2 separate regions of the Homo sapiens genome follow, and region 1 is linked to region 2. The links come from fine-mapping of genetic effects on gene expression. A gene starts in region 2. The other region holds a variant in brackets. All regions are shown on one strand. Distances are from middle to middle.

Region 1 (8,653 bases), 590 kb after region 2:
CGTCTTCAATCAGTTAGGTCCACATTGAAAGCCACCACACAGGGAGGCTCCCAGGAAGTTTTGTTACTTATTTTCTGGCCATAGACCAAGATTTCTTTAAAATTAGATCCTTTGGCCGGGCATGGTGGCTCACACCTATAATCCTAGTACTTTGGGAGGCTGAGGCAGGAGGATCGTTTAAGGCCAGGAGTTTGAGATTAGTCTGGGCAACACAGCAAGACCCTGTCTTTAAAAAAAAAATACAAAGAATTAGCTGGGAGTGGTAGCATGTGCCTTGTAGTCCCAGCTACTCAGGAGGCCGAGGTGGGAGGATTGCTTGAGCCCAGGAATTTGAGGCTGCAGTGAGCTATAATTATACCACTAGACTCCAGCCTGTGCAACAGAGTGAGACCTTGTCTCAAAAAATAAAAAAATAAAATTAGATCCTTTCTTCCCATAAATGCTGAGAAATAAAAGTATAGAACTGAGCCACAGAAACACATGTATTTGCATAATAAATTAACTTTTGTTTTTCTAGGTGATGTAACAAAGAACAATTTTAAATCTTATATTTTTATAATGTTGAGAGACTAAAATACTCATAAAACATCAGTTTTCAGTTTCTACAGATTCTTGATTTTTTTTTTCTTTCTTTTTTTTTTTTTTTTTGAGATGGAGTCTCACTCTGTCTCCCAGGCGGGAGTGCAGTGGTGTGATCTCGGCTTACTGCAACCTCCACCTCCTGAGTTCAGACGATTCTCCTGCCTCAGCCTCCTGAGTAGCTGGGATTACAGGCGTAAGCCACCACACCTGGCTAATTTTTTGGATTTTTAGTGGAGATGGGGTTTCACCATGTTGGCCAGGCTGGTCTTGAACTCCTGACCTCAGATTATCCACTCGTCTTGGTCTCGCAAACAGCTGGGATTACAGGTGTGAGCCACTGTGTCTGGCCAGATTCTTGATTTTTTAAAATGACTTTTACTTAAATCTGTCATACATATTGACAGCACACATATATTCTAAGCGTACGGCTCAATGAATTTTTGAAAACGATATGCCTGTGCAACCAGCACCCAGATTAAGAAGCAGAGCATTCATTACCAGTCCCTGAGAACCCCCACTTTGAGCCCTTTCTAGTCGCAACCAGACATGTAGCAGCATAAGTGAATTTTTACCCAGTTGTATGCATTGCATTGCAATGGAATTATATAGAATGTAGTCCTTTTTTTTCTCTTTGAGATGGAGTCTTGCTCTGTTGCCCAGGCTGGAGTGCAGTGGCGCAATCTCGGCTCACTGCAACCTCTACCTCCCAGGTTCAAGCGATTCTCCTGCCTCAGCCTCCTGAGTAGCTGGAACTACAGGCGTGTACCACCATGCCTGGCTAATTTTTGTATTTTTAGTAGAGACAGGGTTTCACCATGTTGGTCAGGCTGGTCTTGAACTCTTGACCTCAGGTGATCCAGCTGCCTCGGCCTCTCAAAGTGCTGGGATTATAGGCATGAACCAGCACGCTCGGCCACAGTATGTACTCATTTGTGTAATTTACTTACATCATTGCATGCAGTTATAGATTATTCATTGCACAGTGATATATTATTCCATTTGTGAATGTACCCCAATTTATTTTTCCATTCTTGATTCACTATGCAATTTCATGTACTTATCCTTTGCAATTTCATTTACTTATATCCTTTCAGTATTCTACAACAGGTCTGAGAAAGCCACCACCATTTACTAAGTCTTTACCATGGCCAGAGATTGCACTAGGCAATTTATGGCATCATTTACAAAATTGGATGGTAGGTATGTTAATAACCCCCATCTTGTATAGCAGGGAAAACACAAATGCAGGAGCATTCATTTGGTCTTGGGGCCAGGCATGGTGGCTCATTTCTGTAATCCCAGCACTTTGGGACACTGAGGTGGGCAGATCACTTGAGGTCAGGAGTTCGAGACCAGCCTGGCTAACATGGTGAAAGCCCACCTCTACTAAAAATACAAAAAAATAGCCAGGCGTGATGGCGCACACCTGTAGTCCCAGCTACTTGTGAGGCTGAAGCAGAATCACTTGAACCCGGGAGGTGGAGGTTGCAGTGAGCCGAGATCGCCCTACTACACTCAGCCTGGGCAACAGAGCAAGACTCTGTCTCAAATAATAATAATAACAACAACAACAACAACAACAACAACAAATTAGCCGGGCGTAGTGGCAAGTGCTTGTAATCCCAGCTACTTGGGAGGCTGAGGCAGGAGAATCGTTTAAACCCAGGAGGCGGAGGTTGTAGTGAGCAGAGATTGCACAACTGCACTCCAGCCTGGGCAACAGAGTGAGACTCCATCTCAAACAAAACAAAACAAAACCAAAAAACAAAAAAGAAACAAGCAAACAAACCAGGTCTTAATGACTCCAGCATATGCTCTTAAATTCTCTCCTGCTTACCTCAAAGACTAAGTTAAATGTCTAGTTGATCTTGTGGGATGTGGTACTCTATATCTGATCCGCATGGTGGTTACACAGGCACATACAAGTACAAAAATTTATCAGGTTGTACATTTCAGATCTACACATATCACTGTATTTTATACCTGAATTTTTGAAAAGATTATTTCATGTACATAGACATGTCCAAAATATAATGATCACTGAATAAAGGAAGATATAAAATCTTTTTAAAAAATCATACTTGTGTCTGGGCACGATGGCTCACAGCAGTAATCCCAGCACTTTGGGAGGCCAAGATGGGTGGATCGCTTGAAGCCAGGAGTTCCAGACCAGCCTGGGCAACAGGGTGAAACCCTGTCTTTACAAAAAATATAAAAATTAGCCAGGCATTGTGGTGTATGTTTGTAGTCCTGGCTTCTTGGGAGGCTGAGGTTGGAGGATCACTTGAGCCTGGGAGGTTGAGGCTGCAGTGAGCTGTGATCACGTCACTGCACTCCAGCCTAGGTGACAGACTGAGACCATGTCTCAAAAAAAAATTATAATTCATTTAGGTTTAATTTCTACTAACAAAGGTCTGGCACATCTATGAGTGGTATACATAAAGATATTTTTATGTATGAAGTAGTTGTTCTCTTGAAGAACATTATCCAAATACTAAAGAAAATGGAGACACAATCATCTTCCCCCATGCAAAATCTGGTAAAATAAAGTATGTACGTTTCGAAGTGTGCATGTTTGCCCACTTTCTCTTCCAATTTCTCCAGGAAACTCAAGTCTGTAGCAGGACCAGGCCGAATGCATTCTTCATCCTTCAAAAGAAAAAGAGAAGCCTCAATCCACAGCACCACACTCCATCAATGCCAAGTTTAAATGCTTTCACCAGCTGGAACAGAAAGTACTGGACTAAAAGACTGTCAATTCATGTAAGTGCAGGTGAACATTCTGGGGGGAAGAAGGGCTTAATCCATGTGTTTGGCTTCTAAGATTTGATAAGGGGACCATGGAACCAGAGGGCCTGAATATCCCATGAAAAGGCAACACTCTGACCATCTGACTCAAAGTCTTCCCAAGGATACTCCACACAGCTACTATGACCAACCTCGTTTTCTCTAAACCAGTCATCACTGACCATGATTACCATGTGTACAGACTCTTGTTGTAGAAGAAAAGCCCTCATGGAAAGAAAGGTATAAAACCAGTTAAGTCGAAGTTTTTATATTTCTTAAGTTCATTTTTCTATTTCCTATTTTTCGTCCTCAAGAATGATACCATTTAGTTGGCATCTTAAAAATTACAGGTGTGGTTGGGTGAAGTGGTTCACACCTATAATCCTGGCATTTGGCAGGCCAAGGTGGGAGGATGTCTTGAGCCCAGGAGTTCAAGACCAGCACAGGCACATGGTGAAACCCTGTCTCTACAAAATTTTTAAAATTTAGCCAG[G/T]TGTGGTGGTATACCTTTGTAGTCCCAGCTACTCAGGAGGCTGATGTGGGAGGACTGCTTGAGCCCAGGAGTTAGAGACCACCCTGGCTCAACCCTTTTTTTATTTTTATTTTTATTTTTTGAGATGGAGTCTCCCTCTGTCGCCCAGGCTGGAGCGCAGTGGTATGATCTCAGCTCACTGCAACCTCTGCCTCCGGGGTTCAAGCAATTCTCCTGTTTCAGCCTCCCAAGTAGCTGGGACTACAGGCGCATGCCATCATGCCCGGCTAATTTTTGTATTTTTAGTAGAGACAGGGTTACACCATACTGTTCAGGCTGCTTTCTAACTCCTGACCTCAGGTGATCCACCCACCTCGGCCTCCCAAAGTGTTGGAATTACAGGCGTGAGCCACCGTGCCTGGCCTGGCTCAACCCTTTTTAAGCCTGGGAAAAAGTTCTTCCAAGAGTTGTAAGTGCCGGGTGAATAGCTCTAATGCAACATTCATTTTTCTCACCAGAATAGATATGATTCCTTTATGTCTCTCTTCTACCAAATCACAGATGATCTTGTTGTTGAAATATTTAATTGGCTCCCACTAAAATGACAAAGAGGAATGAATTCTCCAAGAAATATTTAGATGAGCATCAAAGTTGGTTTTAAATTGGTTTTCTAAAACATCTTTTTTCAAAATCTAGTTTTTATATTCAACCTTAAACAAATTATATTTTCTGAATATCAAAATAATTTCCCAGGAAATAAGCAGAGAAGGCCTAAAAATTAATCCTCAGTACTAATCAGGAATATCTCCAATGAAATAATACTTCAGTTAAATGTCTTTAGTGGTTGGGCACAGTGGCTCACACCTGTAATCCCAGTACTTTGGGAGGTTGAGGCAGGAAGATCACTTGAGTCCAGGAGTTCGAGACCAGCCTGGGCAACATAGAGAGACCCTGTCTCTACAAAAAGTAAAACAATTAGCCAGGCATGGTGGCATGTGCCTGTGATCCCAGCTACTTAGGAGGCTGAGGCAGGAGGATCACTCGAGCCCAGGAGGTGGAGGTTGCAACCAGTCATGATTGTGCCACTGGACTCCAGCCTGGGCGACAGAGTGAGATCTTGTCTCAAAAAAATAAAAAAAAAATTAATTAAATTAAAAAAAGAAGTCTTTAGCTAGATGAAGAAATCAGATGAGGAGAAAACATCAAAATGTTTACCTCTATGCCTTCCATTTCATATTCTGCCTGTTCTGCTTTTAGAGTCCTCTCAATTAACAGTTGCTGGAGTTTCTCATTGCAGTAATTTATACAGAACTGTTCAAAACTAGAGATACAAAAGATTTAAGTAACTAAAGTTATATGAAGAGAACAATTTTTTTAAACAAATTATATTCTTTTTAGGCATACTTTTTAATAAAGAAAAAGCAAAGTCCTCATTAATAAAATAATTTACTAAATAGATCATAAGAGTCAAGTGAAAATATATTTGCATTTTTATGGTTAGTCCACATCTAGGATGGTCTGTGAGTTAGAAACTATGTAAATCTAGAGACTTTCTGGGGACAGGGAAATCAATCTAGTAACATTAGCGAAAGATTTAAATCTCGACTGAAATCTTAAAAAAGGGCAAAAGACAGATAGGTAGGTAATGACAAAACATACCCATTCTTGTCAAAGACTTCAAACCCATAGATGTCCAGTAATCCAATTACAGTTTTCCTGGTGAAATCCTGGTCAAAATAACACACCCCATTCATAGTTAGGTCTTTTCCTTTGTGCTACTCAAAACTGTTGCTGCTCCCCTAAACTGGGACTTGGCGCTAAAGCTCATATGTCCTCTGTCTCCAACAATGCGGAAAATCTTTGGGTGGAAGTAATTTCCCCAGCCTGCTGCTCCTGCCTGCTCAGATCCCACTGCAGCTTCCATAGCCATCACCTGTGTAGTCAGACCTTCCCCTTCTGATTCACTTCTTTGTTCAGGTGTCCTCAGCCTCCCAAGCCCATGTACAATCAAAAAAAAAAAAAAAAAAAAAAAAAAAAGAAGAAGAAGAAGAAGAAGAAAAAGAAGAAGGAGAAGAAGAAGGAGAAGGAGATGGAGAAAAGGACCTATAGACAGACAAGAAGATGCCTATCCAAGTAAGAGGACCAAGTACCCTCAGGCCAGGGTGGGTATTTAAAGATGATGTATTTATTTCAGGCCAGGCGTGGTGGCTCACGCCTGCAATCCCAGCACTTTGGGAGGCTGAGGCAGGCGGATCACTTGTGGCCAGGAGTTTGAGACCAGCCTGGCCAACATGGCGAAACCCCATTTCTACTAAAAAATTACAAAAATTAGCCAGGCATGGTGGCATGCACCTGTAATCCCACTACTTGGGAGTTTGAGGCACAAGAATCGCTTGAACCCCAGAGGTGGAGGCTGCAGTGAGCCAAGATTGTGCCACTGCACTTCAGCCTGAACGACAAAGTGGGACTCCGTCTCAAAAAAAAATAAAAAAGAGATAATGTATTTATTTAGTTTTAAAGGGACACAATTAAATACTCTGTATGAGTGTCCTAAGTCACTGCCTCCAAAATCATCTTTTGTGTCCTACCTCCATGAATTTTGTCACATCCACATATCCCCTCCCCATCCATGTATCATTTCTTAATTTTTAGCTTGGATTAAATCCCTTTTTTATTTAAATAATTCCACTTGAAAAGGAAACGTGACTGAAGCGTGAGTTTCAAGGGCTATATTTTTTCGTAAATATGTTAAAATATGCTTCTGTTGAAATTTTTAAAATGTCAGGTGAATATATTACTGTTGAAATTTAAAGATTTGTGGTGGTTCATGCCTGTAATCCCAGCACTTAGGAAGGCAGCAGTGGGAAGATGGCTTGGGCCTGGGAGTTTGAGACCAGCCTGGACAACATAGCAAGACCTCATCTCTACAAAATTTTTTTTTAAAATTAGCAGGGCATGGTGGTATGCAACTGTAGTTCCAGCTATTTGGGAGGCTGAGGTAGGAGAATTGCTTAAGCCCAGAAGCTGGAAGTTGCAAGTTATGATTGCACCACTGCACCCCAGCCTGAGTGACAGAGCAAGATCTTGTCTCTAAAAATAAAAATAAAAAATAAAAAGTTTCTGTGTACACTTGAAGCTATCTGGCATACCACAAGCACTATGCACAGCACGCTTTGGAACACATTGTATAAGTCATTCGGCATGCACCCATACTGTATGCTAGACATGGGAAATGTGAATAGGGAAAGACACCATCTCTGCCCATGAGGCGCCCACAGTTCATTCTCCCTCCCAAATTCTTTAAAGAAACGATGATTATAAAACATCACCACGTGAGCAAGAGCAAGGGATCCAAAATGCGTTGACCAACCTTGTTAACTAAGGAGGAATTGATTTTGTTGACCAGCCAAGTAAACGTTCGTCCATAAACAGCCTTTGCCATTGCATCTCTAGCGTAGACAGAGAGTTCTAGTGTCAACGGGCAGATCACCTGAAAAGAATGACAAGGTGCATCATTATAGGTGGAAAAAAGAAGCCCCCAGAGTGTTCAAAGAAGTCTTTTTTCTTAAAAAAAAAATAAAATAATGAGACAGGGTCTCGCTCTGCTGCCCAGCCTGGAATGCAGTAGCTGGGACTACAGGTGCCCACCACCATGCCTCGCTTTTTTTTTTTTTTTTTTTTTTGTAGAAATGTGGTCTAGCCATGTTGCCCAGGCTGGTCTTGAACTCCTGGGCTCAAGGAATCCTCCCACTGCAGCCTCCTAAAGTGATTACAGGTATAAGCCACCACACACAGTCTTGAACTAGTGTTTAATGATGACTGGCAAAGGATACATGCTGGGAAGATGCTACTCTTGTCTTTGGTTCATATGATGGCTCTTTCTTGAGTGCCCATGTGTGCCAGGCACTGTGCTGGGCTGCCGAGATACAGCTGTAACCCAGACACACAGTCCTGACCTTCATGGGCACACAGTTCATTTGAGGGTAGGGAGGGATGGAGAGACATTCAAAGAATCACAGTCATGTTGAAAGGGCTACAAGAGATACATAGGGTGCTTTGACGTAGAGGTGGGAGGATCAGAGAAGGCTCCTTGAGGAAGTGACCCCCAGGAAATGAAGGATGAAGAGGAGTTAACTAGATAAAGCACCGGGAACAGTGTTCCAGCAGAAGGAATAGCATGTGCAAAGACTCCTGTGGAGGGAAGACATAGACAGTATGAGGTGTGGATTGCTAGCATTGGTGTGGTGGTGGTGATGGTGATGGGGGAAGATGAGGCAGGACACTCCACAGGAGCTGGACCACGCAGGGCCTGGTGAGCTAGGATCAAAGGTTTGGCCTCCCCTGAGGCCACCACCCTGCTGTTATCGAGGGAGGCAGCAGCAGCAGGGAGGGCTGGCACATTTCCACCTATAGCCATTTTTACCTCCTCAGTTTTGGCTTCAATTTTTCTGTGGGTGAGAGCTTCCAGAAGGACTGATGGGTGGACCCCCAGGAGCTGCATGTAAAAGAAATCCAGAATGCTATTCAGTGACGCAGTTTTACTTGCTTTTTATTATTTTTTTAGAGACAAGGTATGGCTCTGTTACCCAGGTGGGAATGTGGTGGCACAATCATAGCTCATTGTAACTTTTTTTCAGACAAGGTCTCACTCTGTCATCCAGGCTGGAGTGCAGTGGCACAATCTCAGCTCACTGCAACCTCCACCTCCCGGGCTGAAGTGATCCTCCTACCTTAGCCTCCTGAGTAGCTGGGACTACAGGTGTGTGCCACCATTCATAGCTAATTTTTTTTTTTTTTTTTTTTTTTTTTTTT
Region 2 (8,653 bases):
TCACTGCAACCTCTGCCTCCCAGGTTCAAGCAATTCTCCTGCCTCAGCCTCCCGGGTAGCTGGGATTACAGGCATGCACCACCACGCCTGGCTAATTTTGTATTTTTAGTAGAGACGGGGTTTCTCTGTGTTGGTCAGGTTGGTCTCGAACTCCCGACCTCAGGTGATCCGCCCACCTCGGCCTCCCAAAGTGCTGGGATTACAGGCCTGAGCCACCACGCCCGGCTGGAATTCACTTTCGAAACTGATCATTTAGGTTTTCCTTTTAAGTTTCTTTAGCCATGAGCTATACCCAAATAAAAATACCCATCCTCCTTTAACTAGGAGTTTCCTTCCTATTTGCTCATTTCAGCTCATCCACTTTTCTTGCTCAAAAGCCTTAAAAAAAATTTATTTTTTTTTTGAGATGGAGTCTCATACTGTTGCCGGGCCTAGAGTGCAATGGTGCGATTTTGGCTCACTGCAACCTCCGCCTCCCAGGTTCAAGCGATTCTCCCACCTCAGCCTCCCAAGTAGCTGGGATTACAAGCACCCGCCACCATGCCCAGCTAATTTTTCATATTTTTAGCAAAGATGGGGTTTCACTATGTTGGCCAGGCTAGTCTTGAACTCCTGACCTCATGATCCACCTGCCTTGGCCTCCCAAAGAGCTGGGAGTACAGGCGTGAGCCACCGTGCCCAGCCAAAAAAAATTTTTTTTTAAGGAGACGGAGTCTTACTATATTGGCCAGGCTGGTCTTGAACTCCTGTCCTCAAGCACTGACCCCACCTCAGCCTCCTCAATCAAAAGCCCTCTTTACTATCTTGCCATCCTCCTGCCGAGCTCTGAGGCCAGGCTGCAGAACCAGACAACTGGACACCCCTTCCAGCTTGCCCACTAGCCTCAGGTGAATTATCAGTTCCCCTGTGCCTTGGTACCTGGCATGCAGGAAGTGCTTCATAAACTCACTGTCACCTTTAGGGGGACTCCAGCAAGAGGCTGCTGGCTAGTCCTCCTCTCTCTCAACACAGACAACCACCCTCACTCCTCTTCACTCTCAGACCATCCTGGTCCTGTGTGGCCCCCACGCTGAGTCAGTGGAAACAGGAATCTTGAGGCCAGTTTCCTAAGGTGAGCTTGAACCCCCGATGACCAAGGGGGCACATGAGGAGAGCAGGCTCTAGGCTCTTCATCTTGGATGCCTAGCCCATGGCTCAGCGATTTGAATCTGTGCCCGGGGCCTCACCTGGCCTGCCCCAGGCTGGAGTGAGAACCCCAGGAATGTCCTCCTCTTACCTAGGTGCTATACTTTTCACCTGCTGGCTTCCTAAACAGGGAGCCTGGCTCTAGAGTCAGGCCTCATTTGCCACCCTCCACCTCACACAACCCAGGTTTTCCAACCCTGTCTAAGGTACACTGACTCACCTTTGCATCTGTCCCCTTAAGTGTTCATGTCTCACCATCAGTAAGAAGGCCAAAGAAGTTTAACAGACTTCTTTAGCTAAGCGGCCAACGACATAAGCAGAACACAAACAGTTTCAACTTCAGCAACCAACTTCAAGGCCCCACTGAATATTAATGAGCTGATGGGTTAAGAGGCACTTTATTAAATGCCTCTGCTGATCAAATGAAGGCCTGAAACAATCTGGTAGTTGGCATAGTTACACAACTGCCTGCTATTAGTGAGACAGTGGGATTGGGGCTGGCTCACACACACAGAAACACGTGCTTATCCTCTTCATCTGGATAAACTTGATTCTTTCTTGTGTTGCTGTTCCTGGAACAGGAACAAAAAACCTGGAAAAAAATTCTTACAGCTATCAGTATACATGCTCCAAGTCTCAATCAGGTGATAGACGGAATGAGGAAACTGACAGCAGAAACTCACCAGCAAACAAAACATTAAGGGAAACAGCCACTTTATTGCTGGGGTGATAAGAATTTTTTGGGTTTTTTTTGTTTTTTGAGTCGGAGCCTCGCTCTGTCTCCCAGCCTGGAGTGCAGTGGCACGATCTTGGCTCACTGCAACCTCAGCCTCCTGGATTCAAGCGATTCTCCTGCCTCAACCTCCTGAGTAGCTGGGATTACAAGCACGTGCCACCACATCCAGCTATTTTTGTATTTTTAGTAGAGACGGGGTTTCACCGTGTTGGTCAGGCTGGTCTCCAACTCCTGACCTCAGGCGATCTGCCTGCCTCAGCCTCCCAAAGTGCTGAGATTCCAGGCATGAGCCACCGTGCCCGGACTTAAGAATTTTTTGTTTTTAATTATGCAATCAATACATCTTCCTTGCAGAAAAACTGGAATATAGAGCAAAAAAGCTCAATCCCCAGGTTTACAAATGATGATTATAATAGCAGCAGCTACTAGTAAATATTGTTTCCAATTACCATATGCCTGCACTTTCAGGTCCATTATCTTCCTTATTTATTCTCCATAATCTTGAAATGAAGTCATTTTTACTGAAAGAAGTATAGTAGGGGTTAAGAATACAGGATTTGGGCAAGGCACAGTGGCTCATGCCTGTAATCCCAGCACTTTGGGAGGCTGAGGCGGGCAGATCACTTGAGTACAAGAGTTCAAGACCAGCCTGGGCACCAAAAGAAGTAGATTCCTAAAAACCAAAACTGGTCATTTTTAAAGTGTCCTAGCTGAGTCTTACAGTTTTTACCTCTGTACCATGTCTAGTAATAGAAAAGGAATTAAATGATCAGTATACTAAAATGCCTAATGGTGAATCATTTAGTCTGAGGGCATGTGTCATATCTCCTTAACTCTTAAATAGTTGGTCTGTCATCTAATTAAGAACGATGACTCTCACAAAAGTTTATCGTATCTGGAATTCTTTTTAAATGAAAAAAGGCCGGCAACAGTGGCTCATGCCTGTAATCCCAGCACTTTGGGAGGTAGAGGTGGGCGGATTGCTTGAGGCCAGGGGTTGAAACCAGCATGGCCAACATGACAAAATACCACCTCCACTAAAAATACAAAAATTAGCCTGTAATCCCAGCTACTGAGGAGGCTGAGGCAGGAGAATCGCTGGAACCCGGGAGGCGAAGGTTGCAGTGACCTGAGATCGCGCCACTGCACTCAAGTCTGAATGACAGAGCGAGACTCCATCTCAAAAAGAAAAAAAAAAAAAAAGAAACAGAAAAGAAAAGAGGGTAATTTTGGACTTCGGTGAGGGCTCAACCACCTTAAATATGGCAGGTTGCAAGCACACAGCTTGCAGCACCCATTCACCAAATGGAGTAATGCTAACCTTCTCAATTTTTGTCAACCATAAGACAAACAATCCTCCTCTTCCTCTACAATTTCTTGACAATTATAGCACCAATTTTGAGCCATTCAAAAACCAGGTCTGTAAGACACTGGATAAAATGTATGAAGTCAACAAGAACAACCATACTAGATTTCAGGGGTAATCACAAATCCTCATCCTAACTGCTAAGTTTGTTAGCTTGAAACTTGAGGGCACCAATACCTCCCAGAATTGTTGGGAGACTTTAAAAGCAGAGTTTCTCAGCCAGGCGTGGTGGCTCACACCTGTAATCCCAGCACTTTGGGAGGCTGAGGCGGGCGGATCACCTGAGGTCGGGAGTTTGAGACCAGCCTGACCAACATGGAGAAACCCCATCTCTACTAAAAATACAAAATTAGCCGGGCGTGGTGGTGCATCCCTGTAATCTCAGTTACTTGGGGGGCTGAGGCAGAAGAATCGCTTGAACCCAGGAGGCGGAGGTTGCAGTGAGCCGAGATCGCACCATTGCACTCCAGCCCGGGCAACAAGAGCGAAACTCAGTCTCAAAAAAAAAAAAAAAAAAAGAAGGAAAGAAAGAAAAGCAGAGTTTCTCAACCAAGACGCTGTCGGCTTTGGGGGCCGGAGAAGTCTTAGTTGCGGGGGGCTGTCTTGGCCATTGTAGGATGTTGAGCAGCATAACCGGCCTCTACCCACTACCAGAAGCACCCACTCCCCACTTTCAACAACCAAAAATGTCCCATACATTGCCAAATGTCCCCGGGGGGTCGTGGGTGCAAAATCACCTCCAACTGAGAGCACTACTGCTTTAAAGAGATAGCAATAATGAAAAGATTAAAGCATCAAAGCACTTTAGAACAGGAAGGGATTTTAAGGAGCCTGAGAACCCGTGATTCTCAAACTTTGCTAGGTATCAGCCTCCCTGGGGAGTTTGTTAAAAATGCGGCACCTGGACCTCACCCCAGACCTATCAATAGAGTCAAGTGTTGGGTTCTGCCCCAGCACCAACATCCTCATTCTACAGCTAAGTTAACGTCGGCCAGAGAGGGAAAATGCCTTGCCCAAGGTCACAGGGCGAGTTAGAACCTGGACTCCAAAACCAACCAAGCCCTTCCTTACAACAAGGAGAGTGTGCTATTCTTACGTCTTTGAGGCAGCAGAACCTAAAAATGGTTAAGACGGTGCATTCCGGAGCCAGCCGGCCCGAGTTAAAATCCCGACTTGGCATTTATCAGCGGGGCGGCCTCGCACAAGGCACGTAGCGTCTGAGGACCTGTTTCCTTCTCTGTCCAGTGGAAAAGTAACAGTACCTACCCACCAGCGTTATTGGAAAGGTGAAGAGAGAAGATATTTAAAAAGCCCGTCGCACGGTAAGCACTCGATACGTGTCCTATTATTAGGACTGTCCCACACCTGCAAAGTGGAAGGGGTCTGGGGATCCCGGGGACAGAGGGCTGGAAATGGGCTCAGGGAGGCGAAACGACCCCCGATTCCCCGAAGTCCCCACCGGGAGACGGACCCCCGCCCCGCCCCTCACCTGGCCCTGCAGCTCCTTCTCGAGCTGCCGGTAGTCGTTTTTCCAGACTAGGAGGTGCAGGGGGTAGTGGTCGCCCGCGTCGCAGGCCGAGGACATGGCGAGGAGGCCGTAACCTGGTCCTCGTCGCCCGCCCCAAGTCTCGGCCCCGGCGGGGTCTCCCGCGCCCGCCTGCCTGCCCTGAGGCCGGCGAGCAAGCGAGCGTAGGGCGTGTTACGCTGCCGGCCGGCTGAGCCGGTCGGGTGCGGGGCGCGCGGGAGGTCCGGGGTCGCCGGCCGGCTCAGGGACCAGGTCGGCCGCGCCCACCCCGCGCCCCGCGGCGTTCCCGCCCGCGCTGACAGCTCGCGGACAGACTTCTGCGGACCTAACTGCCCCAAACAGGGAAGTGCGGAGAGCGAACCACCGCATGCCGCGGCGGGGATAGGCGACCTTGGGCACCGGGTCCGGGGTCCGCGCCATTGCACCCACCTCCAGCTCACACCGAGAAACTCAGTGCAGCCCACAGAACAGAGCTGAGGCTCATTCTCTTGGCCAAAGATCTCCACGCGGAAAGTTCCGTCTACCTGTCCCCAGCTTCTTTCCCCCTGCTCCAGTAGCCCCATGTGGTTCGGTCCACAACTGGGCCTCTTCCATTGGCTCTGAAGTCAGGGGGTGACAACTGAGCCCCGGACCAAACCATTCCAGCTGCCGACACCCTTGCAGCCTTTTTGGAGCAGGACAGATGCTTCCACGACGGGTCAAAAGCCATTTTGGAAGTGGGCAACACCGGACAATTTTTGAAGGAGGAACGCTAAACCCTGGCGAAGTGGCTTCAAATACAGTATTTGCATAAAAGGGGATATTTCTACTTCATGATTTCTCAACCTCGGCACATATTGAACTGGGCAGTTTTTGTGTGGGGGTTGTCCGGTCCTTGTAGGATGCTGAGCAGTTGCCCTGGTCTTTCTCCCCACTCAATGCCAGTAGCACTCCCCAAAACATGTCTCTCCAGATATTGCCAAATGTCGTCTCGGGGAGAAAAATCGTCCTCAGTTGAGAACCGCTTCTATTTGAACTCCGAACCGGGTTATGATTCAATAGCTAACTATGGTGGTGATTTAGTCCATGTATGAATGTCATTTTTAAGCTAGCTTTTTGGATTTGAGGTTATGGCTGAAAGGACTGATAAATAATATACATATTTGACCACAGTCTGCGAATATGAAGTTTATTCTTTGAGTTTCAGGCACTATGCCTCCTTGACTCAATGAAGAACCAAATCAACTTACAGCTAGCTACTCATGGGCTTGAACTTTCTGCTGCTGCTTCAGCTCAGCTGTCTACAACTAGACCACATAGCTGGATGAAGCTATTTAATGCATTGTGAAAACATTCCCTCTGCCCTCTGAGTGTATGCACATCCAGCTCTTCAGATGCCTGCAACAACAGCTGTTCAAGAATCCCAACCTAATCCATTCTCCACAGATGTGGAGCCCAGAAGATTTGTGAGTTGTTAAACCAAAACAGGATGCAGGAGCACCAGGATGGCACCCGGAGACTCTAACCATGGAATGCGTGGGAATTCTGTGATTATTTCTCCATCACACATTTATCACACTGTAGAGATGGACTCAAGACCAGTGCTTCTGAGGCCTTTTCCAGCACTTCTCATTCTTTCAGATGCCTTTTGCAACTTAACGTTCTCCTTCTTCTTCATCATGCCGTGTTTATTGAAAATCTCCCTATCTCATTAATCAGAAAACCCCATAATGACAGGAACCACATCGTTTTGCTTACCAGAGTATCTAAAACCAAAATAGTACCTGGCTAACAACAGGCATTCAATATTTGCTGAATGGAGATCATAGCTGTGTTTATATGTAAGACAGACAATAAGTAGTCATTGGTATTAGGGTCACATCTCCTTTCTCCTTCACACTGATTTACCTCATTTCATTGTGTTTATCTCACACCATTTTGTAAATTATCCCATGTTAGCTATTGTTATTCTCAAATTCCACGCATATGAAGAAAAACAGTAATTAGAAAATAATAGCAATATCCATAATTATGGGAGCTACTATTTACTGAGGGGTTACTATCCAGCAGGTGTATCACATTTTTCCCATAATTTATTCCATCTGTCCTTAGCCAAAATGAATGTTTAACTTTGCTGGTCACATACAAGTTTTGTCGCATATTCTTCTTCCTCTTTTTCTTTATTTCCCTCTCTCTCTTCTTCATTTTCATCTCGCAACCCTTTAAAAATGTAAAAATCATTCTTAAGTAGCAAGCCATACAAAAACAAATCGTGGACTAGAAGTAAACAATGCATTATCTTAATTTTGAACATGAGATTAAAACTGAAGCCTAAGGAATCATCTAATATATTCTTTTTTGTTATTTTTGTTGTTGTTGTTGAAGTTGTTTTTGAGACAGTCTCGCTCTGTCCCCCAGGCTGGAGTGCAGTGACGCGATCTCTGCTCACTGCAACGTCCACCTCCCAGGCTCAAGCGATTCTCATGCCTCAGCCTCCTGAGTATCTAGGATTACAGGCATGCGCCACCACGCCCGGCTAATTTTTTTTTTTTTTTTTTTTTTTTTGAGACGGAGTCTCACTCTGTCGCCCATGCTGGAGTGCAATGGCGTGATCTCAGCTCACTGCAACCTCCACCCCCTGGGTTCAAGCTCCTGCCTCAGCCTCCCAAGTAACTGAGATTACAGGCTCCTGCCACTGTGCCCGGCTAATTTTTGTATTTTTAGTAGAGACGGGGTTTCACCATGTTGGCCAGGCTGGTCTTGAACTCCTGACCTCGTGATCCACCCGCCTCGGCCTCCCAAAGTGCTGGGATTACAGGCGTGAGCCACCGCGCCCGGCCAATTTTTGTATTTTTAGTAGAGATGGGGTTTCACCATGTTGCCCAGGCTGGTCTCGAACTCCTGCCTCAAGTGATCCTCCTGCCTCAGCCTTCCAAAGAGTTGAGATTACAAGAGTGAGCCACCACGCCCAGCCTGGAATCATATAATATATTCTTATTTTACTTTACCCCAGTAAAATGCAAGCTTCATAAGGACTAGAAATTCAGTCTTTGCTCACTGCTGTTTCTCCAGTGGCTGGGACAGTATATAAAGCATGGTAAGTGCTTGATAAACATTTGTTGAATCAAGGAATGAATGAATGAACTTGACCATTGATTGCCTCAGGAAGGTTGTGGCTGCAGGGTTCTCATCACAAGATATTGCTACTTCCCCTGGTATTAATCAGTTGGGACGAGGGGAATCTCTGCCAGAGAAGAAGACCCAAATTCAATATTTAAAGGTAGGACAGATGATACTCGGGCAGTCTCCTGCCCTCACTCAAGATGGCGACAAGGCAGAGTGCCCTTTCCGGTCACATGACCTGACACTCGCCGAAGGGCACCTCCCCGCGCGTGCGTGCTGTGCCAAGGCTGCAAGGCGCTGAGGGGAGAGGCGCCGCCGTCAGCGCCGCCGCAGCTGGGACCCGTTAGAGCGGAAGCGCCGCCGCCACCGCCGCCTTTGCTGTCCCCCGGCCTCTAGTTCCCCGCAGGTGGGAGGTGGGAGCCATGTCGAAACGGCTCCGGAGCAGCGAGGTGTGCGCTGACTGCAGCGGGCCGGGTGAGTCGCACCGGCCGGGCCCGCTCCCCTCTGCTTTCCTGGCCCGGACCCCTACCCCGGGGCCGCCCCCTCAGGTCAGGCTGCATCCCGCGGCTAGGGTCGCAACGAAGAGGTCCCTGGGCGGCCTTGGGGTGGGAACCGTCCCGGGCCTGTCAGAGCCGGGCGGGCAGGGGGCCGCCGCCCTCCCCGTCCCTCGCGGCCCTCCCTTCCCTCTCGTTCCCTCCCGTTCCCTCCGTCCTAGGCCAACTGGGGAGGTGACGGGGGC

The links. PIP is the estimated chance that this variant, and not a neighbour inherited with it, causes the effect. A credible set is the group of variants that fine-mapping cannot tell apart.
Region 1: its variant is the best candidate, but not a certain one, in a credible set for the expression of ANKRD13A in testis (GTEx, PIP 0.90).

The regions. Positions count from the first base shown.
Region 1 is chr12:109,406,472-109,415,124 of GRCh38, reverse strand. MYO1H (myosin IH) reads right to left here. Exons shown (of 32, transcript NM_001101421.4): 9 at 8,265-8,336; 10 at 7,212-7,331; 11 at 5,501-5,568; 12 at 5,057-5,162; 13 at 4,357-4,437; 14 at 3,140-3,231. Among named protein-coding and RNA genes, the nearest start is that of LINC01486, 51 kb to the right of the region's middle. The variant G/T (reference allele first, on the strand shown) is at 3,863.
Region 2 is chr12:109,995,908-110,004,560 of GRCh38, reverse strand. ANKRD13A (ankyrin repeat domain 13A) reads right to left here and starts at 5,131. Exons shown (of 15, transcript NM_033121.2): 1 at 4,777-5,131. The coding sequence starts at 4,872. It overlaps GIT2 (GIT ArfGAP 2), which reads left to right and starts at 8,193. Exons shown (of 20, transcript NM_057169.5): 1 at 8,193-8,388. The coding sequence starts at 8,337. RefSeq lists silencers at 4,918-5,007, 5,018-5,137, 8,453-8,542 and enhancers at 5,218-5,407, 8,023-8,182.